Regions from separate parts of the Homo sapiens genome. Here all the other regions are linked to region 1. The links come from fine-mapping of genetic effects on gene expression. A gene starts in region 1. Each other region holds a variant in brackets. All regions are shown on one strand. Distances are between the middles of the regions. Region 1 holds the start of FAM124A (family with sequence similarity 124 member A). Region 2 overlaps FAM124A (family with sequence similarity 124 member A). Region 3 has its middle 43 kb from the start of C13orf42. Region 4 overlaps FAM124A (family with sequence similarity 124 member A).

Evidence for each region. PIP is the estimated chance that this variant, and not a neighbour inherited with it, causes the effect. A credible set is the group of variants that fine-mapping cannot tell apart.
Region 2: its variant is the best candidate, but not a certain one, in a credible set for the expression of FAM124A in cerebellar hemisphere (GTEx, PIP 0.83).
Region 3: its variant is the best candidate, but not a certain one, in a credible set for the expression of FAM124A in monocytes (Quach 2016, PIP 0.77).
Region 4: its variant is the best candidate, but not a certain one, in a credible set for the expression of FAM124A in tibial nerve (GTEx, PIP 0.68).

The regions. Positions count from the first base shown.
Region 1 is chr13:51,218,194-51,226,299 of GRCh38, reverse strand. It overlaps FAM124A (family with sequence similarity 124 member A), which reads right to left and starts at 3,902. Exons shown (of 4, transcript NM_001242312.2): 1 at 3,731-3,902. The coding sequence starts at 3,798. RefSeq lists silencers at 3,954-4,013, 4,134-4,183 and an enhancer at 3,964-4,754.
Region 2 is chr13:51,241,610-51,249,715 of GRCh38, reverse strand. All of the region lies in intron 2 of FAM124A (family with sequence similarity 124 member A), which reads right to left. Among named protein-coding and RNA genes, the nearest start is that of FAM124A, 23 kb to the right of the region's middle. RefSeq lists enhancers at 5,386-5,974, 5,975-6,564. The variant G/A (reference allele first, on the strand shown) is at 3,508.
Region 3 is chr13:51,150,085-51,158,190 of GRCh38, reverse strand. It overlaps a transcript of C13orf42 not described here. Among named protein-coding and RNA genes, the nearest start is that of C13orf42, 43 kb to the right of the region's middle. The variant C/A (reference allele first, on the strand shown) is at 3,895.
Region 4 is chr13:51,272,905-51,281,010 of GRCh38, reverse strand. It overlaps FAM124A (family with sequence similarity 124 member A), which reads right to left. Exons shown (of 4, transcript NM_001242312.2): 4 at 1-561. Among named protein-coding and RNA genes, the nearest start is that of FAM124A, 55 kb to the right of the region's middle. RefSeq lists enhancers at 1-254, 255-911. The variant G/A (reference allele first, on the strand shown) is at 3,361.

The DNA of each region.
Region 1 (8,106 bases):
GGGCCAGAAGCAGTGGCTCACAACTATAATCCTAGTGCTTTGGGAGGCCAAGGTGGAAGGACTGCTTGAGGCCAGGAGTTTAAGACAGTTTCTGAGCAACATAGCAGGACCTTGTGTTTATAAAAATAAAAAAATTAGCTGGGCATGGTGTCGGTGGTGCGGGCCTGTAATCCCAGCTACTTAGGAGGCTGAGGTGGGAGGATTACTTGAGCCTTGGAATTTGAGGTTGCAGTGAGCCATGATTCCACCAATGCACTCCAGCCTGGGTGACAGAGAGACCTGTCTGTTAAAAAAAAAAAAAAAAAAAAAAAAAAAAAAAAAAAGAAAGCAAGCAAGCAACATTACAGATTATCATCTTTTCTCCTCCTTCTCCTTCCCCCTTCTATAGAATCCTTTCTATCACACTGATTGCTCAATTAGCACCTATATTTAAGAAATCTTTCTTCACTCCACTCTCCCCTTTAGCTACTGCCTCTTTTTGCCTCTCCTTTTTCCAGACAAAGGAATCCACCTGTCTCCTTTTCTTCACCTTCTACTGCCTTCTAGAGCCACTCTAATCTGGCTCCTGCCTCCACCACCCCGCTGTGAAATACCACTCTTCCTTCACTTCATCATCTCCATTTAAAAAAGACATTTAGCGTTCCTCATCTTCATTAGTTTCTCAGTAGCATAGTTGATCTCTCCTTCCTTTCTCAAAAACTCAAACCTCCCTTGGCTTCAATGATTCATATTCTTCTTTCTTTGACTCCAAGTCTACTCTTTCTCAGGCTCCTTTATCAGCTCATTCTCATTGACTGGGCGTTTAAATATAGTTTCTCAAGGCTGGTCTTAAAAAGCACCTGCTGCACAGAGTTGTTGAAGGATTCGAGGAGTCCATGAAATACATAAAGGCTTAGAACAGTAGGTGGCACATACTAAATGCTAAGAAAGTGCTTGCTATTACCTTCAGTTGATTTAGTCTCTCCCAGAGCTTCCATTGCCATTTTTAGGTAAATAGTACCCAAATGCAATGTCATCATGAAGACCTCCCTTCTGAGTTCCAGACAGATATACCCAACTGCTGATTCATCATCTTTACTTGGATGTCTTGCAACACCTCAGACACAGTGTGTTGAAAATGAAATGTCTCATATCTTGCCCAAACTTGGTTTGGAATAGATCACCAGCTACTTTGAGAATCTGATAAAAAAAAAAAGTTCTCTTCTCATACAAATTCACAAAGCACATCATTTTGCATACAACTTGAAGGAATTCATGGACCCCAAATTAAGGATCACTGCCTTAGCAGATGTGTCACTTGAGCTGAGTCCTGAAAGAAGAGTAGAGTTTCACCTGGCAGACAGGCAAGTCAGGTGGGAAGGGCAGAGCTGGCAAAGAGGGCAGCTTGACAAAGGCGAGGAAACAGAAAAATACAAGGCGCAAAGAAGGACCTGCTGAGAAACAAGGCCAGGGAGGGAAGAAGGGACTCCATAACAGGAGTCAGGGCATATAGGCCACGTTAAATTCCTTGCATTTGTAGATAACAGAGCCATAAAAGTTTGAAAGGGAGAGACATGATCAGATTTGCATTTTAAAAATACTAACGATAGCAAACACTTGTTGTCTTCTATGTGCTTTCTACATAATCTCTGTGAAAGCTGGATAGGGTAAGGGGTGGGGGCAAGCTCTGGAAAAGCAGGGAAACGATGAACAGCTTTTTGATAACTGAAATTCAAGGGCTCTGTGAATATATGGCAAACACAAAACTAATTAGCATACATTGAAATGCATGCTATTTTACCTTTAGCTTAAGGATACTAGTGATACAGTAAGAATTCCTTTTTTTTTGGAGATGGAGTTTTGCTCTTGTTGCCCATGCTGGAGTGCAATGGCGTGATCTCAGCTCATGGCAACCTCCGCCTCCCGGGTTCAAGCGATTCTCCTGCCTCAGCCTCCCGAGTAGCTGGGATTACAGGCATGCGCCACCACACCTGGCTAATTCTGTATATTTTTTAGTAGGGATGAGGTTTCTCCATGTTGGCCAGGCTGGTCTCAAACTCCCGACCTCAGGTGATCCGCCCACCTCGGCCACCCAAAGTGCTGGGATTATAGGCGCGAGCTACCGCACCTGGCCAAGAATTCTTTAAACAATTCTGTCCTGTTACAACTACACATTTTAGTGACAGAGGCTGAGAACAGAAGCTCTGGTGTCAGCAGGAGTGGGGAGCCCCTCCCAGGAGGCCTGGCCGCTGTCATGCTGATGTCCAGATCCTGGGGCGATGTCACCCCCTGGGTCCAGGACTTCCTCTCCCTTCTCTAAGACAGAGCCCTTGAAAAAAATATCAGTTTTAGGTGAGTTCTGCAAATTGAAAATGAATAGACTAGTGAATGCTTTATTTAACGCAGTTACAAATAAGCTGGTTAATTTTGCTTTGTTTCTTCTATTCATGGTCCAGCTAACTAATGGCAGAAAAAAAAAGCCAATAATCTTGTTAAAGTTGATAAATGCCACTTACACAAAGAGTGGGAAGAAGAAAGGAAGTTTGGCATTTAGCATCAGGTTACTCCACCAGATTATAATTGGGTGCTGTAGAGAGCTATGAATAAGTTTGGATAACAGAGAAAGCCCATTGCTGGGTGAATGCCCTAGGGAGTAAAGTCCCGCATTTGGGCTAGGAGTGGTGGGGCAGGAGGGGCCCTGTGGGGAGCTTTGCCGGGGTTGGGTTAGAACTCTGGGTCGATCGTGGGCCTGGATTCTCTACCTGCCCTCACAGGGTTGCCAAATCCTGAGATTAGTCTAAAACCTCTCCGACCTTCCAGGAATGAGGCTTTCTGTAGTCTAGGCAGCTCCCGCCCTCCCCCAGGATTACTCCAGATAGGAAAAAACACCCTTTCCTCCTGGGTCAGTACCCGCGGCCTGGATGTGGTGCTGACTCTGCACAGGAAAGTCCTTTAGAGACAGAGGCTGCCTGGAAGCCTTTATAACGACATTCATCTCCTAAAAGGCATTTTGTCTTTTCTTCCGCTCAGGAAAACAGTGTTTGGAGACTAACTAATTAGTCTCCAAAGGTTTGAGCCCATTGTTTGAGTCCGCTGAAGCGAAGAGAATATTAAAAAAAAAAAAAGGCAGGGCTAGATCCTAATCCCAACACCATCTCCATCCCGCCGGTACAACAGGCCAAAGGGTCCAGCTGGGACAGGTGCACTTAGAGGTGAGGAAGTTCGGCGGGACTGGAGGAGTCGGGGAGGGGGACTCGGCAGCACAGATTAAAGTCCCACGATGAAGCCATATAACGAGAAATGCCATCCTCCTAGCCGACTTCGGAAAGACTTTTAGGTGCGGGTGTCCCACCCTGCTTTTCTTCCTCTCCCGATCTCCAGGGCCGGACTCCAGGGGGCTCCGGAGCTACAGGAGGAAAGTCCCCGAGGAAGGAGGAAACAAGTGCAAGAGCATCTCCTGTCTCTAGCGATGCAGACAAGGGGTCTTTGCATCCGCCTGGCGCTCTGCATCGCCTCACAGGATGGGTGGGCTTGCACTGAACCTTGAGTCCTTCCACTTTCCTCCCCCCGGGTGGTGCCCGCCCTGCCCAGGGCAGCGCGGCCCGCCCAGGAGAGAGCGGGGGATCCGGCAGGAGGAGAAGCCCCGCGCCCCGGTCCCGTCGCACGGATCAGGAGGGTCCCCGTCCGGGGAGGAGCCGCCGCGCAACTCGGAGAGCGCCCCCCGCCCGCGGCCCGGCCCGGCGCGGCTCACCCTCCGGTCTCGGCGCCCGAGTCCACGCAGTCGTCCTCCTCGCCGCCGCCGCCCGCCTTTGGGTCCATGGTGCACGTCCCGGCCGCGCTCGGCTTGCGGGCGCCGTCGTGACCCGGGGCGCCCTCCCTCCCGGCCGCCCAGTCCGAGCCGGCCGGGCTCCCTCCGAGCGTCTGGCGGCCCGGGAGCCGGCAAACAACTCAAGCGCCAGCCGCGAACCCCGCGCCGCGCCCTCTCCCGACCGCGCCCGGCTGGGCACCCGCGCCTGCGCCCGCGCCCGCCCCGCCCCTCGCCGTCCGGCGGGACCCGCGTGTGCGCGCGGCGGTGCGCGGGGAGTGCGCGTGCGAGCGCGTGTGCGAGCGCGTGGGGGGCGTGTGAGCGTGAGTGGCCGAGGTGTGTGGTCTCACACCCGTGCGTCTGTGCATGCGGTGTGATGTGGGTGCGGTGTGCACTCCTGGTTGCACGCGACTGTGGCTGTGCTGAGCGCGTGTGCCCGTCTGTGGTGCGTGACCGCGTGTGTGTTGTGGGGGCGGGGTAAGTGTGCACACGAGAGCCGCCTCTCTCCCCCAGGCCCACAGTCCGGGAATCCCGAGCCCCAGGGCTTGCCACGAGGTTCCCCACCTCCTGATCTGGGAGGAGCACTGAGAAAACCAACCTCAGCGCATCGTGAAAGCTGGGAAGGATTTGTTTCCCTTTTGGGACCAATTCGAACACCTGGGTGTTTTCTTATAGTTTCTGAAGAATTGCTGACGCCAAATTCATTATCACCTTTCTCAGTACACGTCTGAGCGGCATCCCACCCCCTCAACTTGCCAGTTTACAATAGGTGTCATGCATTCTTTTGCTACTTAAAAAAAAAAAAGCCTTTAAAAATAATTTAAAGAGCATTGAATGAACCTGCAATTCACGGGTTGTTGCAGCAAGGGGATAACCTTAGGGTGAGTTAATGATCGCTATTGGAGGGGCTCACCTCCTATTAGGAGGGTGAAGAGGGAGGCAAGTTGGCAGGGCGGGCGGAAGGAGACTTCGAACAACTTGAATTTAGTTCTGACAGCCCTATCCAAACCATTGGGAGGAATTGTCCTTACTGAGCCTAAAATTTCTTGCACCCCAAACAGCAATGGACATATTGGTGGGCATTAGCTGAAAGAAAGGAGCGTGCCAGTTCTTCAAGGGAGATTCCCCTGCCCATTTTTTATCTTGCAGCCAGGAGGGAACCTGCCTTTATTTACTCTGTGTGGGAACAATTCAAACTGTGCCTCATTTGATCCTCAGGGAAGTGCTGTGAAACAGGCTTACTTTTCTATTTTACCGTCAAGGAAACTAAACCCTACCGAGTTCGAGTGCCTGGTCCCAGGACACCCTATCAGTGAGCAGGGAAGCCAGGTAGTCCACTTAAGGTAGCTGGAGCCTGTGCCACTTACCTAGAAGGCTGATGAGTGGGCCAGTTGTATCCTCAGGAAGATGGTACTAAGGAAAAGGCCAGGGAAGAAAGGGTGAAATCAGCATGACTTTTAGAAGATGGGCTTTGGAAAATGAGATGCTATTTAAATGATTTCTGCCTTTCTCAAATATCCAGAGAAAGGGCATGCCAGACCAAAACCTCAAGCCACATCTCAAAATGATGCATGGATTCAGGTTCCCCTCGCCCACAGGGGACACAGTGTTATCATTCATCATTGGCATAGCAGTCTAATGGCAACTCAGTGATGCATTTATTATATGGAAGAGAAGCTTGAACGGTATCACTGTATTCTAGTGATGCATGGCTTTCTGCTTCAGTTCCCAGGTTTTAAAAGCCTCACTTCATTTTTTGCTTGTTTGTTTGAGACAGGGTCTTACTCTGTTGCCCAGGCTAGAGTACAGTGGCACAATCACAGCTCACTACAGCCTCCACCTCCCTGATTCAAGTGATCCTCCCAGCCTCCTGAGTAGCTGGGACTACAGGCGTGCCACCATGCCCAGCTGAGTTTTAATTTTTTTGTAGAGAAAAATATGTTGCCTAGGCTGGTCTCGAACTCCTGGCCTCAAGTGATCCTCCTGCCTCGGCCTCTCAAAGTGCTGGGACTATAGGCATGAGGCATTGCACCTGGCCCATTTTTTGGGAGGGCGGGGTATAAGAGTTGCTGGCAGGTAACCAGCACAAGAACCTTCAAGTGATCACTGCAGGGTATCTAGCCCCTAAACTTACATGGTTCCCACACTCCATAGTCCAGCTGTTTAATGTCAGTCTCTTTAATCATGGGGGTACGATGCTCTCCTCCACCCCTTTAAGATGGGGACAGAAAAGTGTCACTGGTCTGCTTAGGGTGTCTTGACTGCTGCCCTAAAGATATTCCTATCAGAGCCTGAGAACAGTGTTGGGGGAATACTGAGGTATGGCAGGAAGTGTAACAGGCTAGGAAACATGAAACCTGACTTCTGGATCGGAATCCATCATGTACTAGTTCTTTAAACTCTCGATAGAGAAAAAGGATAGACCATCAACTGTTTCCAAAGTTCTTACTACATGTCAGTCTTTGTGGTAAGGATTTTACATACATGATTTATTTAAATCTCACAAAATTCTTGTGAGGCTTCCTTTGTCCTTAAAATGGGGTTGTTGATATAAATCTCACAGGAGATTCAAAGCCCCTTAGAAACTACGAAGCATATGAATAAAAGATATTGCTGATTTTTTAATCACTTTTTCTCAGAAAGGTCTGAACATCAATCTTTTGTTGTATTTCACCTATAAAGCATGTTTCAGTCTCTGTTTATATTATTGCATGTGTTGGTGTGTTAGAAAACAAGGCAGTTCATTCATTTATTTATTGAACACTCAGTGTGTACTAGGCAGGGGCTGGTGCTGGGGATATGTTGAGGAATAGGCCAGAGCTATTTTCTGGCCTAATGGAGCTTTTTGGGTCAAGAGAAGGCAAGGCCAATGGGCATGGCTGGCCTTCCCACCAGGCACCTGAGAGGTATGTAGTGCCATCAGCCATTAGAATAGGACTGGAATGCCAAAGCCCTGTCTTGGAGGAAAAAACTTAAGATAATCGGATGGTAAATAGAGTCCATCAACTTTGCTGATGAAAGAGATGGATTAGTAATTAAGAAGGCCAAGAGTAATTGGGAGGGGGCCAAAAAAAGAGGAGCTAAGTAGCTTTAAGATAAGAACTTTACAGCAAGAGACTGAAAACAGATAAAAATAAATATCTCCAGAACATAGAATTTGCCCAGATTTGGATTTCAGTTTAGAGGGAAGCTAGGCCACTTTCATTGCATCTGTACCATTTGCTATTAGGCGAGCTTGATTTAGTCCCTTAAGTAAAATATTTGTTAGGGTTATCCAGTAGCAAATAGAACCAGAAAATATATTGGTCTGGAAACTTTTGCTCATTCATTTTAATTAATTAATTACTTTTTGAAAACACATTTCCCAGAAACAAAAATTACAGGTTAAAGAATGACATTAAAATTAAAAAAAAAGAAATCTCTTTCTTCCAAGACTCCAGAAGAGTCTGTCTAATGTGAAAAATAAATATTATGATCATGAGAAGAAAATTTATAAACTATTGACAAATCTACTTAGACAAAGAAAGCCACTAGCCCTACATGCAAACATAAGGGGACCAGATGGCAAAGGGATAAATGAAATGAAAGATAAACTGTTGTGTTGGGAAATAATCTCATTAAAATATAAATGACTCCACTTTGATAAGGAAGAGCACAGATAGTGGTCCTGCCTTGGAGGCTTCCCAAGAATTCTCAGCCTGCAGTTTATACCCGGACGAGATCTGGAGTCCAAGTCAGACATCAGACCACCCACCCACTGTGACCCCCAACAACTGGTGGGTGGGTGGGCGTAAAATGAGATGGGAATGTGAAAGGCTGGCTTCCGGAAATGTGCTGTGGAAATTTAAGAATCAAAGGGAACCTTAGACTCAGGGCACTGCCCTCCAGTCCCCCGTGAATAGACACGCCTCCTGGGAACTGTGGCTAAGTCACCCATTTATGGTTCTACGAATAACCTAGGCTTGGAAAGCTTTGGCCTTCCGTCCACTTTCATCCTGACACTTTCCTTCAGGCACCTGGTCCTCCCCAGCTCCAACGGCCTGATAGTCAGCTTGGCCTGCCATTACAAAGTACCACAGACAGCATGGCTTCAACAATAGAAGTTGATTTCGTCACAGTTCTGGAGGCTGGAGGTAGAAGATCATGGTGTCAGCAGGATAGGTTTCTTTGGAGGCCTCTCCTTGGCTTGCAGACGGCTGCCTTCTTGCTGTATCTTTCTTCTATCTGTGTGCATCCTTGGGTCTCTTTGTGTGTCCATATTTCCTTTTCTTGTAAATTAAACAGTCAGATTAGATGAAGACCAACTCTAATGGCCTCTTTGT
Region 2 (8,106 bases), 23 kb before region 1:
GCTAGATTCTAAAGTCACTGTGAAGCAAAGGTTATCTATAGACACGATTAACACTGAAAGTCTCCTAAATTTCCAATAAAGTACTAACTTGTAACAAGACAAGATGGCCAGATAGATGTTTCTTTAGTTGAACACCACATAAAATAACCATTTTGCTGCAGGGCCATGTATAAGAGAATAGTCTGTTTCTTTAAACACTGAACCCTTACTCATCAAACCCTGCCCTTCACTCTACAAGAGGCTTTTGGGAACCTGAGAGGCTTCTGGAAGTTAAGGATGACTAAGGTAAGAGCGGAGTCAAGTTTCAGCTTTCCACATTCATGGAGTAGAATGGCAAGTGGAATCCTTTAAATTGTCTTCCCTCTTTTTCCTTCCTGCTGGCTGAGCATGTATTCTCAAATTTGTATGAGTTAAATATGAGCATAGAGCAATTCCAACTTACTACATATGACAAAAGAAGGAGGGCTCTGCAGAAGGCTTCCTGGAGGAGGCACCAAATGAACTGGGTCTTGAAGGGTAAAGGCAGAACACATCCTCTTGCTCATGATGCCCTCAAATGCTGAGGAGATTAGGAAGTGTTTACGAAGGTATAGAACTGTGCAAAAAACAAGCACATTTGGAAGGGGGCCGTGGGGAATTCTGGGACATGGCAACAGATGCAGCTGGAAAAATGGATTAGAACCAAGCTGTATGGGGCCTCAGCTCAATTCAGTAGTTGATAAGGGGCAAAGGAAGGTTTTATGAAGGGGTATCAGGATCAAGTTGGGGGAAAGTTGGCTATAGGCAAAATAAGGAGTTAGAAGACTAGTGAAGAGTCCAGACAGGAGATGACAAGGACTTGGCAGAGTAGGAGATTATGTTAGTGGCTTCAGTTCCTTATCCTATTATGTATCCTTACTTTCTGCCATGTGACTGTGTAGCTCCTCCCACTAAATGGGTGGCGTATTTCCCCACCCTTTGATTTAGGATGAGACTATATGCCTAGCTTTGGGCAGGAGAAAGAGACAGCAGTGGCATGTGTTTTGGCTTGCCTCCCTGTGCTCCCAACATTTCCATAAGAACATACTTGGGGGAGCCCACCGGTCCCAGTAAGGGGATGAGACACATGGAACAGACCCACTCTAGCTGAGCCTGCCCTAGATCAGCCAAACTTCACACCCAAAGACGCAGGGCAAGAGCCACTCAGGTGAGCATGGTCTAGATCAGCTGATCCAAGACAAATGGGAAATAATAATGATGGTTGTTTCAAGCCTGAAACTGAGACTGGAGGTGGCTGTTACCCAGCAGTACTTACAGATCCAGGACAGTCAGTCAAGTGGGTAAATAGAAGAGGCATGGATTCACAGGCTATAAAGATGCAAATGGCAGGCCAGGAAGCCCACAGGCCTGGTGGGTGGGGTGTAGGAAAAGTTGGAGAGGAGTATATACCCTGATGTTTCCAGCTTGAACAAGTGATCTGATGTGATGTTTAACTGAAATAGGAAATAGAGGAAGAAGGGCAGATTTGTGGGAAAAGACAGAAAGTTCCACCTTGACCACTTGGCTTGAGATGCCCAAATGACTTCCAGGAGAGATGTCCTTTGGCAACTGGATCTTTGTGTTGCTTAGGTGAAGGGCTGAATTTAAGGATGGGCCAGTTACTTTCAGATCATATTCTCATTTGTATGCAGTTATCTGATAAGCGTGTGCCCCCATATAGACCTGAATCATGAAAATTCATCATGATGGCTAGGAACACAATCAGAATTCAGAGATAATTCTGGCCCTTTTCTTTGCTTGCCCTTTCTGCCTGCCTGGCTTCTTTCGGTTTGGTTGAACATTCATGACACGATCGGCAGAAGTACAGTTGACGCAAAAGTAGTAAAGCTGCGATGAAATTTTCTGCCAGTGAGTAACTCCAGTAAAAGTAGGAGAAAATACCACATCATCTAAATGGATTTCACTTTTCTCTGGTGCCTTGAACTCCCAACAGTGGAGACATGCGACTTTGCTAAGCATCAGTGAATGCTCCATGTAAATGGAAAAGGACAGAAAGGCTTTGAACGAGGGGTCAAGAATTTTACCTGAAAAAAATGACAGATGATTTTAATGAGGGGGGAAAAACACCATGCGAAGTAAAGGAAAGTCTGGGAAAAGAAGCTGCCTGGGCCACCAGGAAGTCCCTTCAAGGTCCTAATCCCACCCCCAGGTGTGCATGTGGCCAGGTACACAGGGTGACATGTTAGCTAACATGGGTGCTTTCTCCATGTTCTACATGTATGAACTCATTTAATCCTTACAACCACCATAGAAAGGGGAGGTGCTATGATTGTCCCCATTTTAGAAACCAGGAAATTGAGGCACAGGAGGTGAAGTAGCCTGCCAAGGTCACACAGAGTATGAGCACTAGCTCCAGTATCCGAGTTCCGTGTGCACCATCAGCCCAGGCTCTGCAGAGAAGTGTGCTCGCCTCTCCACTGTATCCCTTTCACAGCAGAGTGGCCAGCTGCCATTCTCCATCCATGTGTGGCCACGGCAGCTCCCGCCTGGCCCCTCTGCACGGCTCTCCCACCTCATTCTGACTGGCTTCATTCCCAGCCACCAGCCAACAGCTTCATTTCTTGGACACCCACTTACATTTCTTTCCTCTGGCCCCAGGTCTTGGAGGAAGAATAAGCTAGAAACTGCCCTCCCTGTTGGCACATGCCCAGGTCTTCACATCTCAGCAGTGCCCTCGAGGGCAACTCAAACAGGCCAGCACCACAGGTGGGTGCACAAGTGAAAGGAATGCATAACAGTCACCCAAGAAAGCCTATAGCATGGCGTGAGAGGCTTGGGTGTGAAGAGGCCCGGGAGAAGGTGGCTTCTGAGACTCTCCAGTGGAGCTGTCAGGGCGCTCAGCCCTGTGCCATCTCTATCAGTTACACAAAGGTTTCCCTGAGAGCAGTAACAAAGACCATGCTGAAGTCTGCATGGATGAGTGAATGTTTACAGCTCTGCAGAAGGGCGAAATGCCCGGCCTCAGAGCAGGGGGGTGAGCTGAAAGGCATTCCACCAAGTACCAGCTCGCCTGGCAGTTTGGGAGGCAGCCAAGAGCAGGCGAGCCAGGATGACGAAGACCCGACCCCCAGAGCCCCCTCTGCACTGCCTGAACCAGGGACATGTAAGTGGCTAAGACCCTGCCCCAGAAGAGCTAAGGAGAATGAGCAGTGGCATTAGCATGCTCTGGCCATCACTAGCACGTACCCGCTGCACATGACCTGAAAACACAAGCAAAGAACACAGAACGCAGCTTCAAGCTGTCATCAGGTGTTAGAGTTACACCCCCCCCCACCCCACGAGAAACATGCCTCTGTGGAGCTGGATAGGAAACCAAGCATTTGAGGGGAAGGACAGAAAATGTGAATAATTAATTGCCACGAAAAGTCTCTATGCCTCCCTGGAGAAACACAGACGACATGACTGTGGGATGTGCTCTGCCTTTATCATATCTATTACATGTCTTCTCAAAGGACCTAGCGAGCACCT[G/A]TTGAATTATGGTAAAACACAGACCAGAACCAAACAGAGCAGTGGCACAGACTGCCCCAAGGCTGGTGGGAGGATGGGAGCTGCTAGCACACCATTAACAAGGCTTTCAAATTAGTTTGTGTTTTCCTAAGGAGAAGGGAGATTCTTTTTCATTTGATTATAGACAATTAGGCTTTCCTTTGATAACACAAAATGAAAACAGTGTTAAAGAAAGCAGTGTACAAGCTCAGGCCTTCTATGATGCAGAAAGTGTACTATTAGCCTGGGCATTTGTTATATATATATTTTTTCCAACATTTTACCTCTCCTGTGTATCCTGTTTCTGGCCATTTAAATTTAACAGAAAATTAATTTAGACAATAGCAACCATTTATTATGCTCTTATTATTTGCCAGACATTGTCCTACAAGCTTTATGTATACTATCTCATTTAATCTTTCATTTAAAGCAACACTATGATAGATGAACTACTAACTGACCTGCTCAAGACCATTTGCCTGGAGAACAGCAAGGGCTGTCTGAACCCCGGATCTGTGCTCCTCACCACTATGTCCTCTCACTACTCAAGGGCACAATCCTCGTGATACAGGAGATGGAAAGAAATTATTTAGGCACATAGTGAGTATAAAAGAGCCCTTAGCAGAATTTTGCTTTTAACAAAAAAGCAGCCCCCAAATCATTTCTTTTCTAACAAAGAGCAGTCTGAAAATTCGAGCTGTAGATGTAGATAAGCAAGCTGGAAGCTTGCACAGATGAATGCCGGAAGCTGCGCCAATAGAAAAGGGCTACCTGAGGGCCAGGTATGTTCAACCTGGAGGCTCCATCTTCCCTTTTCTTTGTCACCGTGTGTACAGTAAAGGAACAGGCAACATGGCATCCGCCAGGTGGAGAATCCATCTGCATAATAAAAGATTAAAGTGGGGGGCGGCCAGATTTTCACATGCTGTGCAAATGGCACACCTAGTCCTAACCAGTTTTTTGCATCTTATGCAAATGGCACACCTGGTCCGACCAATCTTTTGTGCCCTATGTAAATCAGACACCACCTCCTCAAGCTCATCTACACAACCCTAAGTATTTTGTGGCAGACCAGACACCTGCTTGGGAGCCCTCTCTCTGCAGGAGATAGCCTTTCTCTTTCTTTCGCTTATTAAAGCTCTGCTCTTAATCTCACTCCTTGTGTGTCCACATCCTTGATTTCCTTGGCAGAAGACAACAAACCTCGGGTATTATCCCAGATGAACGATGCCACTTCACTTGGAATCATCGCGTTGGTTTTTCTGCCCCAAATTGGCTGGGGCTCTGAAATCATGGCTTAGCTCCTTCACCCACCTTAGGTGGGAGAGCCTGCTGTGAATGGGCTGGCTGTTTCGCCTGGGTGGGCATCCTCAGCTGGAGTCTTCGGAAGAAGAGGGCAGTCTGCCTGTTGACAGACTTCCGGGTGCTGGACCTACCTCAATGCTGCTTGCGCCAGGGCCCCTCACAACCACTCTCTGCAGTCTTGGGCTTTAGATCAGCCATGCCTGCACTGCTTGCCCGGTGCCTGCCAGACTAGCCCTCCTCCCAGAACTGGCCAACTGGTGTGTCCCCAGAGCACCCCCTCCCCAGCAGTGGGCATGTCTAGTTGAAGAGATCTCTCATTCCAAAAGAACTTCCTGGACAAGTCTCAGGATATGACAAGCTCAGGTACCCCTTTCTAGAATTTTTGGGCAACGATTAATATGATTGTCACTTTAGACACAATTTGTCACTGACAATTTGCAATTTAGTTTCATCATTTATTTAATCAAAGAATGTTTACTGAACACCCACCATGTGCCAGGCACTAGAGGATACAGTGGTGAATAAAACAGTCTCTGCCTTCAGAGAGCTTATAATCTAGTGAGGGAGACAGACAATAAACAAATATATAAGATGTAAGCCGGGTAGCTAAGTCCTACAGACAGACACTTCACTGAACACACACATGCTCAACGTGGTTTCCAAGGCAGTGGCTGTAACAATTTACCATTGACGGAATAAACTGCTGTGCGCCATTCCAGTGCCAAAATTACTGCCAACACTGCAGTGCCCAGTAATCCCCGACGAGGCCAACAGACTGTGAAGGAGGGCACCTCCAGCTGTTGCAGGTTGTTTGGTTTAGGAATCTGGCCCTGGAGCCTGGCTTGAGAGCTGCATAAGGTTGAATAAACACTTATTTGCATTTCTAAAGCCCCCATCAACGGCACTGAGTGGCTTGGGGGCTGGGATACTGGTCTGCCAACCAGACCCACATGATCCAGTGGCAGAAAACTCAGGTGAGACGGTGCGTCACACACACAACAAAGACATGTCCAGGGCACCGGCTGACACTGTGAATAAAGACCAGATCTGGGCTGGGCGTGGTGGCTGAAGCCTGTAATCCCAGCATTTTCGGAGATCGAGGCAGGTGGATCACCTGAGGTTAGGAGTTCAAGACCAGCCTGGGCAACATGGTGAAACCCCGTCTCTACTAAAAATACAAAAAAATTAGCCGGGTGTGGTGGCGGGCGCCTGTAGTCCCAGATACTTGGGAGGCTGAGTCAGGAGAATCACTTGAACCCTGGAGGTAGTGGTTGCAGTAAGCTGAGATCACACCATTGCACCCCAGCCTGGGCAATAAGGGCAAAACTCTGTCTCAAAACAAACAAACAAACAAAAAAAACCAACAACCAGGTCTGAAAGCAGGAGGGAAAAAGGCTCTGGGTGACGCTGAACACAAAACTTGCAGAGGGCTAGCCTCCCCACATTGAGGCATTCCCCAGAACGCCAGAAACAAATGCCTTCAGAAAGGGGCCTCCAAATTCCTTCCTGGGAGACGCTATTCATCCGGAATGTAATGAATAACCTGCCTTCATCTCTTTTTTTCATAGTTTTAGAAGCCAGTTCTTTGAAACTTTGAACTAATGAAAAATGTGTAAGCAACTCCCTTACTCCACCAATATTTAAGACAAAATCTCAGACTTTGTTCTTGGTAATTTTGTAATTTTGACAAGGCCTGTTGGCCTGCAATTTTGGGCTGTGAAAGTGGCGAGACTGGTTGCAGTGCTGGAAATAATGACCTGTGGTGGCAGTGAAGTGACATATAGGATTTTTAACATGGAGATCCAAACTGCATTTATAATATAGATCATAAGGTTCTTCCTCAGCCTGATTTCACAGAAGTGTCCTGTAATTGAAGAACTGAACCTAGGCTGAAATGATTAAGCTAAAACTTATATTTTCATTTGGCAGAGGAGTACAATAAAGGATCTTTCTGGTCTATAGGCCCTCTCACGCTTTTATAAGAAGGGTGGCTTTGCTATAACAGTTATTCGACCGCCCTCTCATTTTTTTTATGATTTGCTGGAGGAACAATGTCAGCGATGTGGATGTCTAATTCATATTCCTGAGCTCATTCTAAAACCAGGACACTATTAAGAAAAAAATATATAGAAAGTAAGGCAGATACTTTAGATACCCTGCCGGTTTTTTTTTCCACTTGGAAATGGGACATCCATCTTACTTTAAATGTATTTCTAAGCTTCATTCAGGTCCATCATTCTGAAACATACTCTCCTGATAGGAAAAGGAGGGGGAGCAAAAGCCGGACACCAACCAAAGGAATGACAGACACTTTAAATCCTGATACAGCTTGACAGAGATTCTGGGAGAAGACCAGAAGGTTGATATGTAATTAGTTTGAGGAGGTATAACTGCAGCTAGAAACACTTAAACATATCTAGCATACGTGTGTAAGTCCCTGGGACTGCAAGGACTTTGAAAGTTTATGAGAAGTAATGCAGGCCTGACACCCAGCAATGTACCATGCTTAATGATGTACTAAGACTCCTCTTGCATAAAAATTTGACGGTTCAAAATGCCTGAAGAGGCTATAGCATTCTACACAGAGTCCTTTCTTCTACTCAGTAATTTTAATTCTCTCTAAACCACATTATGTGCTTGTCATTTGCATTTGCAGCAAAGTCATCCTGAGAAAGTCAGGATCTCAACAAATACTGGAGATCCAGAGATGACAGAGCAGGGCTTGGAAACAAGAGGAACAGAATTAATATTAATCTTGTATTAGGAAATGAAAGAAATCTACCAAAAAGAACAAAACAAAAAAGACAAAAGAGGAAGATGTTAGCCTAAGCCTATCCCAAGGATTTGTTCATCAGGAAACTCCAGGCCTCTGTCTTACACTAGAGCTCGTGGGAGGAATCCTTACAATTATATTAGTCAAGATTTATCTTAAAAAGGGACTTATTCTGGCAGGATATTGAGAAATCAGATGAATAATGATTAGCCGTTGCAACTCTTCTAAGAAAAGCCACTGCATATGTGCTTATAAAACACGTCCTGAACGCAGTAGATGCAGCAGTGACGAAATCCAGCACTGGCTTTGCTCATGATCAAACGAGCAATGTAGGAAGTGGATGGAGCCTGGGGACTCATTTTTTTTTTTTTGGCCTAAAATTCAGTGGAATATTCAAATATTTTGAAAATTTTAATATAACACTGACAAGTCTCCGGTACTTGTTTCTAAGTCTCCTTAGAAAATGTGTACTTTGGGCCCATTTGGAGAACAAACTTACTGGA
Region 3 (8,106 bases), 68 kb after region 1:
CTGGCATCTCTACTTATTGTGGGATGTTTGGCAATTTACTTAACTGGTTTCAGTTTCAATTTTCCCATCTGCAAAATGGGAATAATATCTAGTCATTGAAGGAATGAATACAAGAATGTACACAAAGTCCACTGTGTAAGGCCTGGGAATAATGTGGCAAAGCCTGGTTTTTTGTTGTTGTTTGTTTGTTTTTTAAAAACGTTATTTTTGGTACTGTCACTAAGGGTGGTGACTTGAGCTTGTCCTAAACTCACTTTAAGGCTGCACGCCTTCCTCTTTCCTCTTTCCTTGCTCTTGCCACTTACAAATCCTCTGAGAGATTTTAAATCTTTTGTGAGAGCCAGAACACAGGTGTCAATATTTAATTGTCAAGTTCTGAATTTTAGTGAATATTTATTACTTCACAATACACGAGGCTTCTGTTGACCCTGCTTTATTTATCTAACATTAAAAAAACACCAGTTGGTTGCCTCTTCATGCTGGCATGGTCTGCTCCTGTACAAGCGTGTGTAGGGGTGCAGTAAGGAACAAAGGGGGTTTCAACAAAGGCTCGCTGGCCACAAATAGCTCACTCACCTGCATGGCAGAAGAAGGCAAGAAGTGCCTACAAAAACACTGGCAGTACAAATCCAGCCATGTCTACAAAGTTCACGAGCAGGCAAAATGAACCTAAGGCAATAGAAGTCAGTCCATTGGCCACCTCTTTGGTGTGGGAATTTTATTTCATTTTATTTTATTTTATTTTATTTTATCTTTTGAGATGGAGTCTCGCTCTGTCGCCCAGGCTGGAGTGCAGTGGCACAATCTCAGCTCACTGCAACCTCCACCTCCTGGGTTCAGGTGATTCTTCTGCCTCAGCTGCCAGAGTAGCTGGGACTACACGTGCACACCACTGCGCTCAGCTAATTTTTGTATTTTTAGTAGGGATGGGGTTTCACCATGTTGACCAGGCTGGTCTCGAACTCCTGACCTCAAACGATCCGTCCGCCTCGGCCTCCCAAAGTGCTGGGATTACAGGCGGCAGCCACCGCTCCTGGCCAGTGTGGGAATTGATGGGGAAAGGGCAGAGGGAGCCTCTGGGGTGCTGGAAGTGTTCTAGGCCTGGATCTGGACATCTGCACATATAACACTGGAGCTGTGCATTTACAATTTGTGCCCTTTATGTATGCTCTACTTCAATTAAGGAGAACTGAAATTTTAAATAACTATAGAAAAAGCACCACTAGTGCTGTTGCTCAGCAGGATGTGAAGATATGTAATACGAGAAGCTGTACTCAGCCACCTATGGCACTGGGTAACAATTGCGTGGATTATTCCCTTGCAACAGAGTGAACTGGCCTGAATGAGAGCTGGCCTAGGCAGACAATTACAGTGTGGAAAATGGGGACACACCCCATCACCAGATGCCCATGAGAGCTGAACAATATTCAGATTCCTTATCTCTCCTTAACAATAGTAACTACCCTGATCAAGTACCTATTCAGTTCTAAGTGCTTTGTAGATACCGATTTTTTCCACTAGTCTTTACAATAATCTTATATGGTAGGTGTCTTTTGTTCCATTTTATCACTGAATCAATAGTTTAAAGAGACCTTATAACAAGTAAGGGGTGAAGCAAGATTTTAACCTTGGTCTGTGTGGCCTTTTGATCAGTACCATAGGCTCTGAAGACAGATTTCCTGGGTTTGAGTTCCAGCTCCTCATTTCCTTTCTGTGTAAATGTGGGTAAGTTCCTTGACCTCTCTGTGCCTTAATTTTCTCATCTTCAGGAAAGGGCGTAGTGGCAGCTATGTATCACAGAGTTATTTGAGTTAATCTGTGTAAAACACTTAGAACACAGTATGCACTTGGCACATAGTAAGAGCTATACATGTGTTACCGATTACTCTGTTGAATGACACAGGCTTTCAAATGGAAGGGCCAAATCCCATTATTTTCTGGGATATAAAGTAGAAATATAGGCCTAGCCAAACTGTTTGCTCCCTACCTCCCTCCTATGGGTTAACATAGCCCCGAATCCTAGGCACGTGGCAGGCCCATGGGACTGCTTTCCTTCTTCCCCAAGAGAACCCCTGGGTTACAGGCCGGGGGTGGGGTCAAGGTCCCCTGTCACTCCAGATCTCTCCTGCCACCCGTATCCTCAAGGTGGCCTAAGAGAAAATGTTGTTCCAGGCTTGTTGGCAGTTCCTACCTACACTGATGTCAGGCACAGGGGAGTCTGGAAGCTGTTGAAATGAGGACTTTTCCAGCTTGTGCCATCAGGTTTTCTGCCTGGATCTCCAACCCCATTCCCATCTGGATTCTGGTAATTTTCCCCTCCCTGACCACGTGGTGACAGTTGTCCTTGTGTGAACAAGACCCCGCCTCTGAGGTCACCTGTGATGCCTGACCAGAGTCTCTTCCCCAGAAGTCAAGACTTGGAAGTAAGAAATGGTAACATCAGTTGAGATTGTCTTTGAATGGAAGAGATATAAATAGAAGAATGCGGTAGCCGTTTTCCATCTTGTCCACTTGGAAATATACTGAGAAAGGAAGTGTGCAGCGAGTGTGAGAGGTAAAGCAGAGCCTCAGATAAGAGTGGGGACCAGGAGCAGAGATTGAGAGAGGTGGGTCACTCTGAGGCCTGAGCCACTGTGGGATCACCCAGCATCCTCATCTGCAAATTACCCCTCCTGCTTAAACTGGCTGTAGTGGGTTTCCAGCGCTCATACTTGAAGAGTTCACACAAATACACCTGGACTGAGTAATTCAAGGAACAAAATTCATTGCATGAAGCAATTTTCTTGGAAGCCTTTCTTGAATCCCCTAAATTGGGTTAGGAGCTCCTCTCAAACACAGCTGCTTCCCTTTCCCCATGGACTTACTTGTATCTTAGCCCTAGTTATACTCTTCTTAAAAATATGTCTGTATTAAAAAAGTTATCTTTAAAACCCACAAGGAGTTTCCAAAATGTAGTTTTTTTGAGTTGCAATCTTTAAATGTTTAGGTCTTATTCATGTAGCTCCTGCATTATTTATTTATTTTAATAACAACATAATAGGCTTTAATATTTAGCTTATATTTATTCATTTTACATGAACTCCTTTTTAAATTGAGCATCATCCAGGAGATAGTTAAGAATTGAGGGTTTGAGGTATTAGATATATATTTCTAAACATACGTTAAACTGAATATGTACCTATTAAAAAGAAAAGATAAAACGTTCTACCTAAGATCATCTCACGTACCACTTTGGAAACTCCTGTCCTACCTTACCGGCCCCTTAAAAGCAGGACAGTGACTCATGCACAGCCTGCTTTCTACCCTTGGGCTCAGGGCCCAACATTTCCCCTTTATAGAACTTTTCACAAGAAACCGTCGAATGTGCAATTAGTTTACTTGTCTGACTTGCATGGAAGACCCTTCCATGCATTGTTTACTGCTTTATCCTCAGTGTCTTCAACGAGGTCTGGCACGTAGCTGAGGTTTAATACATATGCATTGGAAGAAATAATGCATGCATTGATAAATGAAAACCAGTTCCAGAATGTTCTACAGCCATGAATGTCAATACATGCTGCTTCTGACTGGTGGGGACACTTGAGGGTGAGCACTCTTGCTCAGTCTCTTACTTTTCTCGCTTGCTCCACTCTGGTGGTGACACTATCAGGTCAAACATGGAAAGTCTTTAGTCCTTAGTTCCATTGGCTGAAGCAGAACAGTCCTCCGACACTGTGATTCATACGCACCCTAACTGGGCATGTGCAGAGCCAGCTGTATAATTGTATAATTTAAACAGCCCAGTTCAAAATGAAAATGTGTGTTCAAAAAGCAGGAGTCCCTATGACTCAGCAATTCCACTTCCAAACATACCCAACAGAATCGAAAGCAGGGACTCAAAGAGATAGTTGCATA[C/A]CGTGTTCATGGCAGCATTACTTACAATAGCCAAAAGGTGGAACTTAAATGTCCATCTACAGATGAATGGATAAACAAAATGTGACATAGACACACAATGGAATATTATTCAGCTTAAAAAAGGAAGGAAATTCTGACACATGCTACTCACGAAGAACCCCAAGGACATTATGCTGAGTGAAATAAGCCAGTCACAAAAACACAAAAGCTGTATGATTCACTTGTGTGACGTACCGGAGTTGTCAAATTCATAGAGATAGGAAGTAGAATGGTGGTTGTCAGGGGCTGGGGGTAGGGGAAAATGGGGAGTAATGGGTATCACATTTTAGTTTTGCAAGAAGAAAACAGTTTTGAAGATGGGTTGGGTCAGGCATGGTGGCTCAATCCTGTAATCTCAGCACTCTGGGAGGCCGAGGCGGTAGATTGCTTGAGCCCAGGAGTCTGAGACCCGCCTGGACAACATGGCGAAATCCTTTCTCTACTAAACATACAAAACTTAGCTAGGAATGCACCTGTAGTCCCAGCTATTTGGGAGGCTGAGGTGGGAGAATCACTTGAGCTCAGGAGACGGAGGTTGCAGTGAGCTGAGAGATTGCATCACTGCATTCCAGCCTGGGCGACAAAGCGAGATCCTGTCTCCAAAAAAAAAAAAAAAAAAAAAAAAAAGAAAAAAAACAGAAAGCAAGAAAATGGGTTGATAACAACGTGAATGTATTTAACACAACTGAGCAGTACACTTAAAATGGTTAAGAGAGTAATTTTATGTTACATAATTTTTACTACAATTTTTTTTAAAGTAGGAGAAAAGCTTTCTCTCTCACAGTCTCTATCTCTGTCTCTCTCTCTCTCTCTGTCATGTTTTTTTATTTGGTATTGAGTGTCACACTCCCTTGGGCACAAGCATAGGCATTGGGTGAGTGCAGACACTTATAGGTGCCCAGGACCTCATCTTGATGCCCTGGGCATGCAGGGGGTGCATGCCTGGCTCCCACACTCTGAGGAGGGCAGGAAAAGGGGGCAGTGGTTGCTCAGCAGGACCCTATGGAGGGAGCAGGAAAAAGGGGCAGTGGTCACTTGGCAGGACAGGGGAGGGGGTGTTGAAGAACCCTTGCTAGGGAGGCGGCAGGTGCAATGGCAGGAGCTGAGGCTCCAAGTCTTTGGCACATAACTTGACTTACAAAACATTAATTCAAAGATACAATCATTAAGAGTTTTAAGATTGCCACTGCAGAGCACTAAACCTCAATCCCTTCTGTGTGTGGGGCTGGGCAAGTGCACTGTATACAGTCCCCAAGAAGCCAGCCCTGGTTGTGCTGCAGAAACATAACAAAACATCAACCCCGCAGCAGGTGTCCCCAGGGTGCCCGCGAACATGACGCAGCTCTGCATGTATGGGATCCACAGCCAGCAGACATGTGGCTCGAGCATAGCAAAGAGGCTGGAGGGATTGAGTCACTAAGCCAGTGAGCCTTAAAGGGTTATCTGTGGATTTCCCAGGACTAGGGCTTAGGTTTGCCAGAGCCACCCTGACCTCTTTTTACTGATGGTAGAAGTAAATTGAGGCTCAGTGATTTGAAGATTTAGCTGTTAGAGTAAATTATTTTGGGATTGAGGTCATCAAGCAGGAGAAAAACTTTGCACTATCAGAATGCTAGAGCTGAAGTTGTGTTTTCTAAAAAAGAAATGGGTTAGGCTGAGGCAGGAGGATCATTTGAGACCAGAAGTTTGACACCAGCCTGGGCAACAGAGCAAGAACCCCATCTCTAAAAAATATTTAAACATTAGCCAGGTATGGTGGCATGCACCTGTAGTTCCAGCTATTCAGAGAAACTGAGCTGAGAGGATCACTAGAGCCCAGGAGGTCAGGGCTGCAGTGAGCCAGGTTCGTGCCACTGCACTTCAGCCCTGGCAACAGAGTGAGACCCCATCTCTTAAAAAATAAATAAATGGAAGAACTGGGTGATGTTTGTAACCAAGTGTTTATAAAATAAAGCCTGCTAAATGTTTCCACAGGAGACGTACAGCCTGATGGTGTATGTGATGTCTATGTAGATGCTGAGAAACGACACAGAGCTGGAGTGCACCGTTCTAAGCATGGTCACATAGCAGTAGGAATGTTCTGAGGGACCTCCATGCTATCAGGGTTACATATGTAAACAATTTCTGGAACCTGTTTCTTTCTTTCCACACTGTGGTGAGTATGAGAATATTGTTATTTGGGGCAGTGATTCTTAAACTGTCATGCACCTATGAATCCCCTGGGATCTTGTTAGAATGAAGATTCTCTCCTGGTAGGGCTGGGCTGGGCCAGAGATTCTGCATTTCTAACAAGCTCCCACGTGACTCCTGGACCATACTTTGAGGATCAAGGGTCTAGACCAGCCTGGACAATAAAAAACTGCTTCCTTCTTCAGCATTCATGTCTAAATAAAAGGCCCTGGGACCATGTAAGTCCAGAATAGTACAGACCCCTTCTATCAGGCTTCTAGGTTAAGCTGAAATGTCTCCTCTGCTCCAGGAAGCCTTCCTTGGCTCCCCCAGGCAAAGGGGAGCACCATCAGCTCAGTGCTCCCTCAGGGCTTGGTACATGCATGTTTAGTGCATAGCATGTTGCTTTACCTGCATGTGCAGAATTTTCTCTCCCTACTGGACTATGTGTCTCTGGAATGCCGGGCATATTTGCATTGGCAGGGTCAGTGCCTGGTCATAGAAGGTGCTTATATTGATTTCCTATTACTGCTGGAACAAATCATCACCAACTTAGTGGCTTAAAGCAATATGAAGTTCTCTAGGTTAGATGTCCAACACAGGTCTCACTGGGCTAAAAATCAAGGTGTCCGCAGGGTTCAGTTCCTTCTAGAGGCTCTAGGGAAGAATCTGAGTTTTTGTTTGTTTGTTTGTTTGTTTTTTCTTTTTTTTTTCCTTTTCCAGCTTTTGGGGCTACCTGCATTTCTTGGCTTCTGGCCCCTTCCTCTGTCTTGAAAGTCAGCAATGGTGTGCTGAGTCTCTCTCACATTTCATTTTTCTGCCCTCTCCTGCCACCCTCTTCCATTTTTAAGAAAGATAATCTGGAAAATCCCCCCATCTTAACCTGATTAGCAGCCTTAATTCCCTTTACCATGTGGTGTAACATATTCGCATATGTAACATTACCATGTGGTGTGACATATTCACAGGTTGCAGGGATTCATGTGTGGACGTCTTTAGGGGCTGTTATTCTGTCTACTACAATGTTTGACTAGTGTCTATAGAGTGAATTTGTGCCTGTGATTGGCCTTATGCACACAGCTCAGGCCAGGGGGGTTCTGAAGAGTTGAAGATTCTACAGCTCTGTACTTGCTGTGGCCAATTTTTTTGGTAGCATTTCTGGTATTTTTCATTTAGCTGGGATTATTTCTGACTTCTGGCATCTCAGAAGACATTGGTAGCCTTTTGATTCTAGTCATCCATACACAGGCAAGATCTGCATAGAACCAAGGAATTCAGTTTACCTCAGCAAGTGCTAATGCAGCTCTAGTTTTAGTTTTCATTCTGGGATGGAACAACATAGCCCCAGTTGTTGAGGGTCTCTCTGCGAGTATCTTTCTGGTGGCACAAGCAGTGACCCCTAGGCAAATTGATGGGCTCATCTGGATTAGTCCACTGCATTTTTTAGGATGGCCAAAGCTGCTTTCTGGAAAGAAAGAGGTTCTGTTATACAGCCAGTCTTCTTGAAAAATGTTTGTAGAACTGCTGAAAGTATATATAATTTACGCAGAATTTATGCCAAATTTGGGCTGAATATATATGTTTTGGTTGTGACCAGGACGGAGGAGTGTGTTAACAGAAGCAACTTTCTTAAAGCCTCCCTTCCCGTGTGATTGAAGTTCTAATATTACTTCCTAAGGGACTACATTGAACCTGTTCCAAGTATATAATAAGAATAAAGCCCAGTATTGATTCCCCCAGTCGCCCCAGTAGGATACGCTGGTGGCTGTAAATTTGAAAATTGTGACATACAATGACCAAGTGCTCAAAGATGTTTGTTTTCACTGTGACCAAGTGACCAAGGGCTGCCTGTTAAAAAATATCCCCAATTCTGGAGAAATGTGGGGGTCCCACAAACGACACCACAGTAAATGAAAATGTCAGCAGTAAAAGCTGATCATGTGTTTTTGTCTACATAATTTTGTCCATAATTCTTGTGCAATTCTGTTATGGCACTTCAAAAGG
Region 4 (8,106 bases), 55 kb before region 1:
CAGTGGTCCCTCCCTGGAATCCTTGTGAGCTGCCCAGTGGCTGCTGCATCTTTCGGAGGGGAGGGGTGTCTCCACTGTGCTGCAGAACCTACTGGGTGCAGAATATGCAGAGACCACAGACAGGTCCGATGAGGACAGCCGCAGGCCTGTGTCCACGTCTGTCTCCTGGGCCCCCTCTAGGTCATCGATGGAGAGGAGGTGGCCATGCCTCCACTCTGATGCCCTGTGCCCTGGGGCACCTGTGTTTGAAAACCACTGTGGTTCAGCTGAGGAGGCCAGGGAGGGGCCTCCCGTGGGCAAACAAAACAAGGACTTGCTTCTCTGGAAAGACCAGGGAGGGTTGGGGGTGCTGTTGGCTCGTCCGGCAAATTCCTGCTGGTGCCCAGGAGGCAGGCCTGTCCGGATGGGCCCCGGGTGAGGACTGTTGAGCGGGGACTGCTGGCTGCTGCCAGGTGTATGGCTTGGTACAGCAGTGCTCGGCAAAGGAGTGGAATGACGTTTCTTCTCGGAGGCATGATGTACTCTGCCAGGTTTAGGAAACTTCTTATGCACCCTTTGTGCCTGTGGGGGGAGAGGCAGATCACATTAGTGCAGGATGGGAATTGTTAAATGCATCAGGAAACACAGTTACCAATCATTGGAAACTCCTGGCAATGTCATGGCAATAAAGCATTACCAGCATTACCAGTTCTGCAATCTCTAGAGCAAAGACAGAGGTAGCAGAGCTTTGAGGAGCACCAGAAAGAGTTTTCAGTCTGAGGAGCCATCTCCGAGGCTAGGAGGAGATTCAGCTCCTTATCACAATACAGAATACTTTTTAAAGCACACATGCCCATTGCGCTCAACAAACTGGCAAAAAGAACATGGGCCTGGCTGAGCAGGATAACGGAGATAAGAATTATCACAAAATGCAAAAAGAATGCTTGCAGGGTTTCTTTCCTTCCAACCAAAGAATCACAGTGTGCTCACCTGATAGACACTGTTTGTAAATGTTACTGATGAGAGGACAGAAGTGATCAGGATGGGCTATGCAGAGACAATTTCAGACCAGATCCACATGGGGTGTGATTCTAGTATATGCATGATAGCCAGGACACAGTCTTAGGGTGGGGTGGTCCATGGTTCCAGACAGTAAATCCTCCATGAGTGAGGGGCTATCGGGGTTAGCATTTATCTACTTGTTGCTAGTAACTACTGATTCCTCTATATACGTTACCTTTCAGGAACTGTGTACAGGAAAGGGAGCTGCCGCCTGCTGACTGATCCTGCGGATCCTGCAGGGGTTGGATGAGCAGCTTTGCCCTGTCATATCCCAGCCTATCCTCCTGGTCCAGCAGCCCTCCCTGGCCCTCACTGCAGCTCACCAGTAACCCGTTTCTGTTGTGCAGAACTGGAGACCTCTCTTCCAATGCGCATTTGCACCAGGGTCTGCTTCTCTCAGATTCTCTCTCTGGTCTGTGTCCAAGCATACAGGCCAGAACCCAAGGCCAACCTTACTATGCATCCAAGGTTTCAATTAAATAATGGGTTTGGGGGCAGTCGGTCTGGCTTGACTTAGTATATATTAATAGTACCTGATTTACAAATCCCTGCAATAAGAAAAGGGTTCTGACTGGGGTTTACTACAAGGGCTCTCGGCATCCAGCAGGAATGGAGAGTCACCCCTTTGGGATGGGGTAAGGAGCAGCCCCAAAAGGCTCAGATGTGCCTAAGAGGTGTCACAGCTGGGTGGCTGCTGGGGAAACAAACCAATTTTCTTAATCATTTGAATTGGCTGAATAAAAGAGAAAATAAGTCAAGAGAAAATAAAATGAGGCTATTAGAGAAAGAAGTCCTTGGGTACAGAGGTTGTTTCCGGGGGAGGGGGACAATGTTTATTAATTCAAATGTCTATCTTATTTTTTCCAAAGGCCAATTCCTTTGGGTGCCCTAATGTCATTTTCTTTCTTGATAAGTATGCATCACCTTGTAACTTCTGTCTTCAAAGTCTTATTTGAGAACATGCACTTGGTGAAAAATTTTGCAGTCCGAATCTGCCTGAAAAAGGAAGCCTTTGTGGTTGCTTTATGAGGAGCAGAAGGTCAAGGTTCCCATGCAAGGAATGCCAGGGGACGTCTAAATGTTCCCAGTGTCAGGGAATAGGGCACTGTTCAATTTGGCTTAAAATCAAGCACAACTGATGGAGGATGAACACTGTGTAGTTTTGCAGAGATTTTCACGACTGTGCTTGTTTAACAGAAATCTACCTGTATTCTCTTATTTTTACCACATGACGAAGGTAGGAATCCAGACAAACCCTACATTCTGCTGCTTTGAAGAGAGATGGTACCCGGTCTTTTTCACTGGAGGGTGCCCACGTGCACAGTGGAGCTGCCTGCTGGGTGGGCGGAATTTGAGGCTGATATGGCATTGTGAATAATGGCAGGAAATCCTGGGTGGCAGCAGGAGGCAGGTGCTTGAGGAGCCTCCACATCGCTCCTGAGGCCTGGAGCTGATGTGACTGCAGGGCTTGCATATGGGCGGATCTGGTGGTATTCTCTGGCTCTGTCCAGTGGCAGAGGGGTCAGTTTCTAAAAGTGGGGTCTTGTTGGATTTAAAGACAACCCGCACCTGTGAAGGTTGGAGCTCCTTTATGTGCTGTTCCCCTGGTGGTGGTTCCATCTCTGGCCTCCCTTGTGTGCTTGTCTGCTGACCAGAAACACTAGAGGCTGGGAGGGAGTTACTTTAGATGTTTCCAGAGACTCCTCCTCAGTGGACCTTTTTAGAGTGAAACAGGAACCTGAATCCTCCTCGCATGGAAGCCTCCCCCTGGCTTTCAGCTCTTGGAGGCTGCCCTCCTGAGCTGCTCCAAGTGACAGCAGCGATGTACTCGTTCCTTTCTTTCTCTTTGAAGCAGTGCAGGCTAGCTGCCTCCCTGGAATCCAGAAGCTCCCTTCTTTCTATTTAAGGAACTTTATCTAAGGAACAGAATAGCATCACATAAATTAATGTGCTTAAGGCAACCAGCCCGGGAAATTTGGCTATGTCCCTAAAGTCACCAAAAAATTGGAATTCAGTAACTGATCCAAAAGTTTTCCCTGCACCTTTGAGTACAGTTTGCAACTGGGGAAGCGAAGGGGTCTGCGGCGGACCACTGAGGCAAAGCATCTTTTTCAAGGATCTGGGTGTCAAGAGGCTCATACCCTGGCACATGGATAGAATCCTTTCTCTCTTTTTTTGAGACAGAGTCTCGCTCTGTCGCCAGGATGGAGTGCAGTGGCGCGATCTCAGCCCACTGCATCCTCTGCCTGCTGGGTTCAAGTGATTCTTCTGCCTCAGCCTCCTGAGTAGCTGGGACCACAGGCACGTGCCACCACACCC[G/A]GCTAATTTTTTGTATTTTTAGTAGAGACAAGGTTTCACCATGTTAGCCAGGATGGTCTCAATCTTCTGACCTCGTGGTCCACCCGCCTCGGCCTCCCAAAGTGCTGGGATTACAGGCGTGAGCCACCATGCCCGGCCAATTCTTTCTCTTTAATTTTTTACTTTTTATAGATTTAGGGAGTACAAGTGCAGATTTCTTATGTGCAGATACTGCATAGTGATGAGGTCTGGGCTTTTAGTGTACCCATCACCCAAATAGTGAACAGCGCACCCAATAGGTAATTTTCAGCCCTCACCCCTGGTCACCCTCCCACCCTCCCACCCTGTGGAGGCTCCAGTGTCTCTTATTCCACTCTGCATGTCCATGTGTACCCATTGTTTAGGTCTCACTTCTAAATGAGAACATGTGGTATTTGACTTTCTGTTTCTGAGTTATTTCATTTAAGATAATGACCTCCAATTCTAACCATGTGGCTGTAAAAGATGTGATTTCATTCCTTTTTATAGTTAAGGAGTATTCCATGCTATATATACCGCATTTTTTTTTCCAGTCATCCACTTGATGGACACTTAGGTTGATTCCATATCTTTGCTACTGTGGACAGTGCTGTGATAAACATACGAGTGCAGCTATCTTTTTGGTAAGAATCTTTTCTTCTTAAATCGCTAGTAAAGGTGATTCTGCCCCTCCCCCAGGAGCCCTGGCAGAGTCTCATGATTTGTTCATGGTCAGGGACTTTACCCTCAGCCTCACACCTCCTCTTTCCCAGTAAGATCATTTCCTCTTGTGTTTTCCTTGGCAGAAACATGAGCAGTGTGACAATGTCTGCTGTGTAATGAGCCCGTGATGGCCATTTTAACACAGGGACTAATACAAATTTGGGGCTGTCTCAAGAAAATTGGGCAACGGGTTCACATTGAGAAATCAGAGTCTTGCTCTAAAGAAAAATACCATGTTTTGCTTTTCCTTTCCCTTTCCTTTGGGTGGTTTTCACACACTCACTAAGGATGCTGGCCATGGGCAAAGCCTGTGTTGTCTTTCTGGAATGGTCAGTACAGGAAGAGGATTTGGATGGAAAGGGCAAAGTTCACCCTAAGAATGGACAAAGCCCGTACACGTTTTGTAAAATCAGTGATGTTTTTGGTAGAAAGTTTGAAAGTTGTCAAAGAGATGCTGAGCTAGACAGGATGGCGGTTGAGCAAATGCTTGCTGGATTGTCATCTGTCTACCTTCTCTTCCTGTCGCTATTATGGAAGTGTAAGGCTTTCTGGAAAATCATCAGTTATAGCAACATACCAATTCCATTCTCTGCATAGAATGGCAGGTAGTATAATTCAGGGTAAAAGTACTTATTCCCCCAAATTGGTAAAATGGCAGCAAAGTGATAATTAGCACCCCCTGTGGCTTCCTGCCAAGAGTTACTTAGCCTCCCTAGCTTCACCCCGCATACCTCTTGAGTGATCTCTCTGAAAGTCAAACCTGAACAAGCTCCTTGGCAAAACTCACTCCTTGGCAAGCTCTACAAGACCCGGCCTACCCCTTGAGCCTTGTGTCTTTCTAGAATCCTAACTCATGTGCGCCAGCAGTTTACAACTACCATGCTCCCAAACACCTCATGCTCGTTTGTATCTCCATGACTTTACATGGTGCTCCCAGTGTCTGTGCACTTAGAGAATACCTGCCATCTTCGGAGACAAAATTCAAGGTGCTGCTGTGAAGCCTCATTTGGCCACTTCCCCTCATTTGGTGAACAACATGCACTCATTTCTCTTGGGTATATTCCCAGGAGTGGAAATGCTGGGCCACAGCATGAGCATGTTTGCGGCTTTAGTAGATACTGTCAGTTTCCAAATTGGTTGCGTCGATACATAATTCTACCAGGAATTTATAAGTATTCCAGTTGCTCCACGTCCTCACCAGCATTTGGCATTGTAATTCTTTTTAATTTTAGCCATTCTGGTGGGTAATGGCATTTCATCATGTTGTTAATTTGCATTTCCCTGATGAGTGATGATATTGAGCATCTTATGAGATGTTTATGGGCTATTTAGGCATTGCTTTTAGAGACATGCCTGCTTTTTATGCATACTCTGGATTTAACACCTTTCTTAGATATATGCATTGCAAAAAATATCATCAGCCAGTTTGTGGCTTACCTTTTTGTTCTCTTATTGGTATCTTTTGATGAACAGAAGTTCTTTTTAAAGTCATTTATCTTTTTTTCTTTAAGGCTGGTACTTACTGTACTCTGGTTTATTTCTTTATTTCTTTAGAGACAGGGCCTCCTTCTGTTACCCAGGCTGGCGTGCAGTGGCACGATTATAGCTTATTGCAGCCTCAAACTCCTGGGCTCATGTGATCCTCCTGCTGCAGCTGCCTGAGTAGCTAGAGCTAAAGGCATGTGATACTATGCTCAGCCAATTTTTTTTTTTTTTTTTTTGTATATACAGGGTCTGGCTATGTTTCCCAGACTGGTCTTGAATTCCTGGCCTCAGGTGATCCTCCTGCCTTGGCCTCCCAAAGCACTGGGATTTCAGGCATGAGCCATCATGCCTGGCCCCTTGCTCTATTTTAAAAACTTTTTGCTACTGCATCCAGTAGCCATTGTGAACCAGGATTCCTGAGTACTGTGGATGACCACAGGGAGGACAGAAAATAAGCCACTCTTGATTAAGCCACGATTCTTTAGGTCCCTATCATTCTCAGTTGTACTTGAGCTTACAAATTACTCCAACAAATAGGAGATATTGATATATTTAGAGGAACTGGGTTAATTGTTAAATCTTCACTTAGTTCTGTGAGGCTTTTAGAAATTGGGTTGCTTGACATCTGATCCTGCAATTATGTGTTTAAACAAATGTTCAGTTTTGTACATAGCAAGCACTCAATATATTCCTGAATGAATAAATACAAAAATACATGTGAGATACAAATACATATCTTCTAAAATAACTTAAGGTAATTTTAAGGTACTTATATGTGTGTAAGTTATGATATATGCCTATATATCATAAATCATAAATACCAATAAATATTATTTGATTTTAACAGAAAAAAGTTATGAGGACTCTGATATTTTTGGGAAAAGCAGTAGCAACATCTAATGATAAAGAGCAACTTTTCAAATAAAAAAATATCTGAGTAGTTGCCTCAGGGACCAGCTTTGTTTAATACAGGTTGAGTATTCCTAATCCCAAATCTGAAATCCAAAATGCTTCAAAATCTGAAACCTTTTGAGTGCTGACATGATGCTCAAAGGAATGCTCACTGAAGCATTTTGGATTGTGGATTTCCAATGCTCAAGTGATAAGTATAATGCAAATATTCCAAAATCCAAAAAAATCTGAAATCTTAATCACTTCTGATCCCAAGCATTTCAGAGAAGGGATAGTCAACCTGTATCAGTAGTGACTCTTGTGAAAATGTGGCAAGGATCCTAGGAGATACTATTAATAAACAGAAAAGGGCTGGGCACCTAGAAGTTCTAGGAAACAACATGGATATTGATCTGATGTATATTAAAAAGCTATTCACTTAAGGAGGAACAACAGAGAAAATCAAAGTGACAGCTGAGGACCCGGAGCTAGCGCCAACAAATCTAATGATAGAATCTGTAAAACTTGAAAGAATATCATGCCCAGGTGCAAGCTTTCTCTTTGTATAAGTTCTGCATCTTTCCCCGAATATTTATTTTTGGTGTAATTTGTGAATTACCCTGCCCATTGGCTGTAAAACACAGGAGTAGACAGAACTGATTTTTATATTAACAAAGGATCATCAGAGTTTCATTAAGTATCATTGATTTTAAGAAATTTCCAAAGAGAAATATCCCGTGACATAGTTCAATGACCAGGAGGAGCTGACAGAAACAATTAACAATAACTTAGGTTAAAAATCTCATTCTTACTTTATTTGAACAACAAGAGATAGAGTATTTTGTTTTTGAATTATCCAGATAATTTCTTCAATTCTCCAATGTAATTTTCTATTGCACTGAGGGTATAATGCTAGCTTGTGGGACTGAACTTTAGCTAATTACTGCATTCTAGCCTGAAGGATTCAAGTTAAAAAAAAATTAAGCCAACGCAATGTTACACGCCTGTAGTCCCAGCTACTCAGGAGGCTGAGGTGGAAGGATCGCTTAAGCTCAGGAGTTTGAGACCGGCCTGGGCAACATAGCAAGCCCCTGTCTCATTAAAAGAAAAAGTACATGCATGCATATCTATCTGCGAGCCTGACTGGAATCTTGGAGATTCAGTTTAATCTCAGTTTTCTCTAGCTCAGCACAATTGACATTTTCGGCTAGATAGCTCCTTGTTGGGAGAGCTGTCCTGTGAGGATGTTTAACCGCATCCCTGACCTCTATCCACTAGATACCAATAGCACCCTGGCTACCTCCCCGTTGTGACAACCAAAAATGCCTCAGGACATTGCCAAATGTCCCCTGGTGGAGGAGAGATGCCAAGTGCCCCCAGGTGAGAGTTGCTGCTAAACTTTTGTATTATGAAAATATAATGCCCTTGCATAAACCTGGGGGTCTAAGTTCTGCGGGAATGCCTCCCTATCATTTTTTGAATTAAATTTTTATTTTTATAAACTGATATGTAAACAGAGTTTTAAAAACAAAGTACACATTAGTTCTACAAAGCTTATAATGGGGGAAAAAAAGAGGTTTTACCCTTATCCAAGTGTCATTTCTTAGAGCAGTGCTGTCTATAGAACTCTGTGCAATGATGTAAATGTTC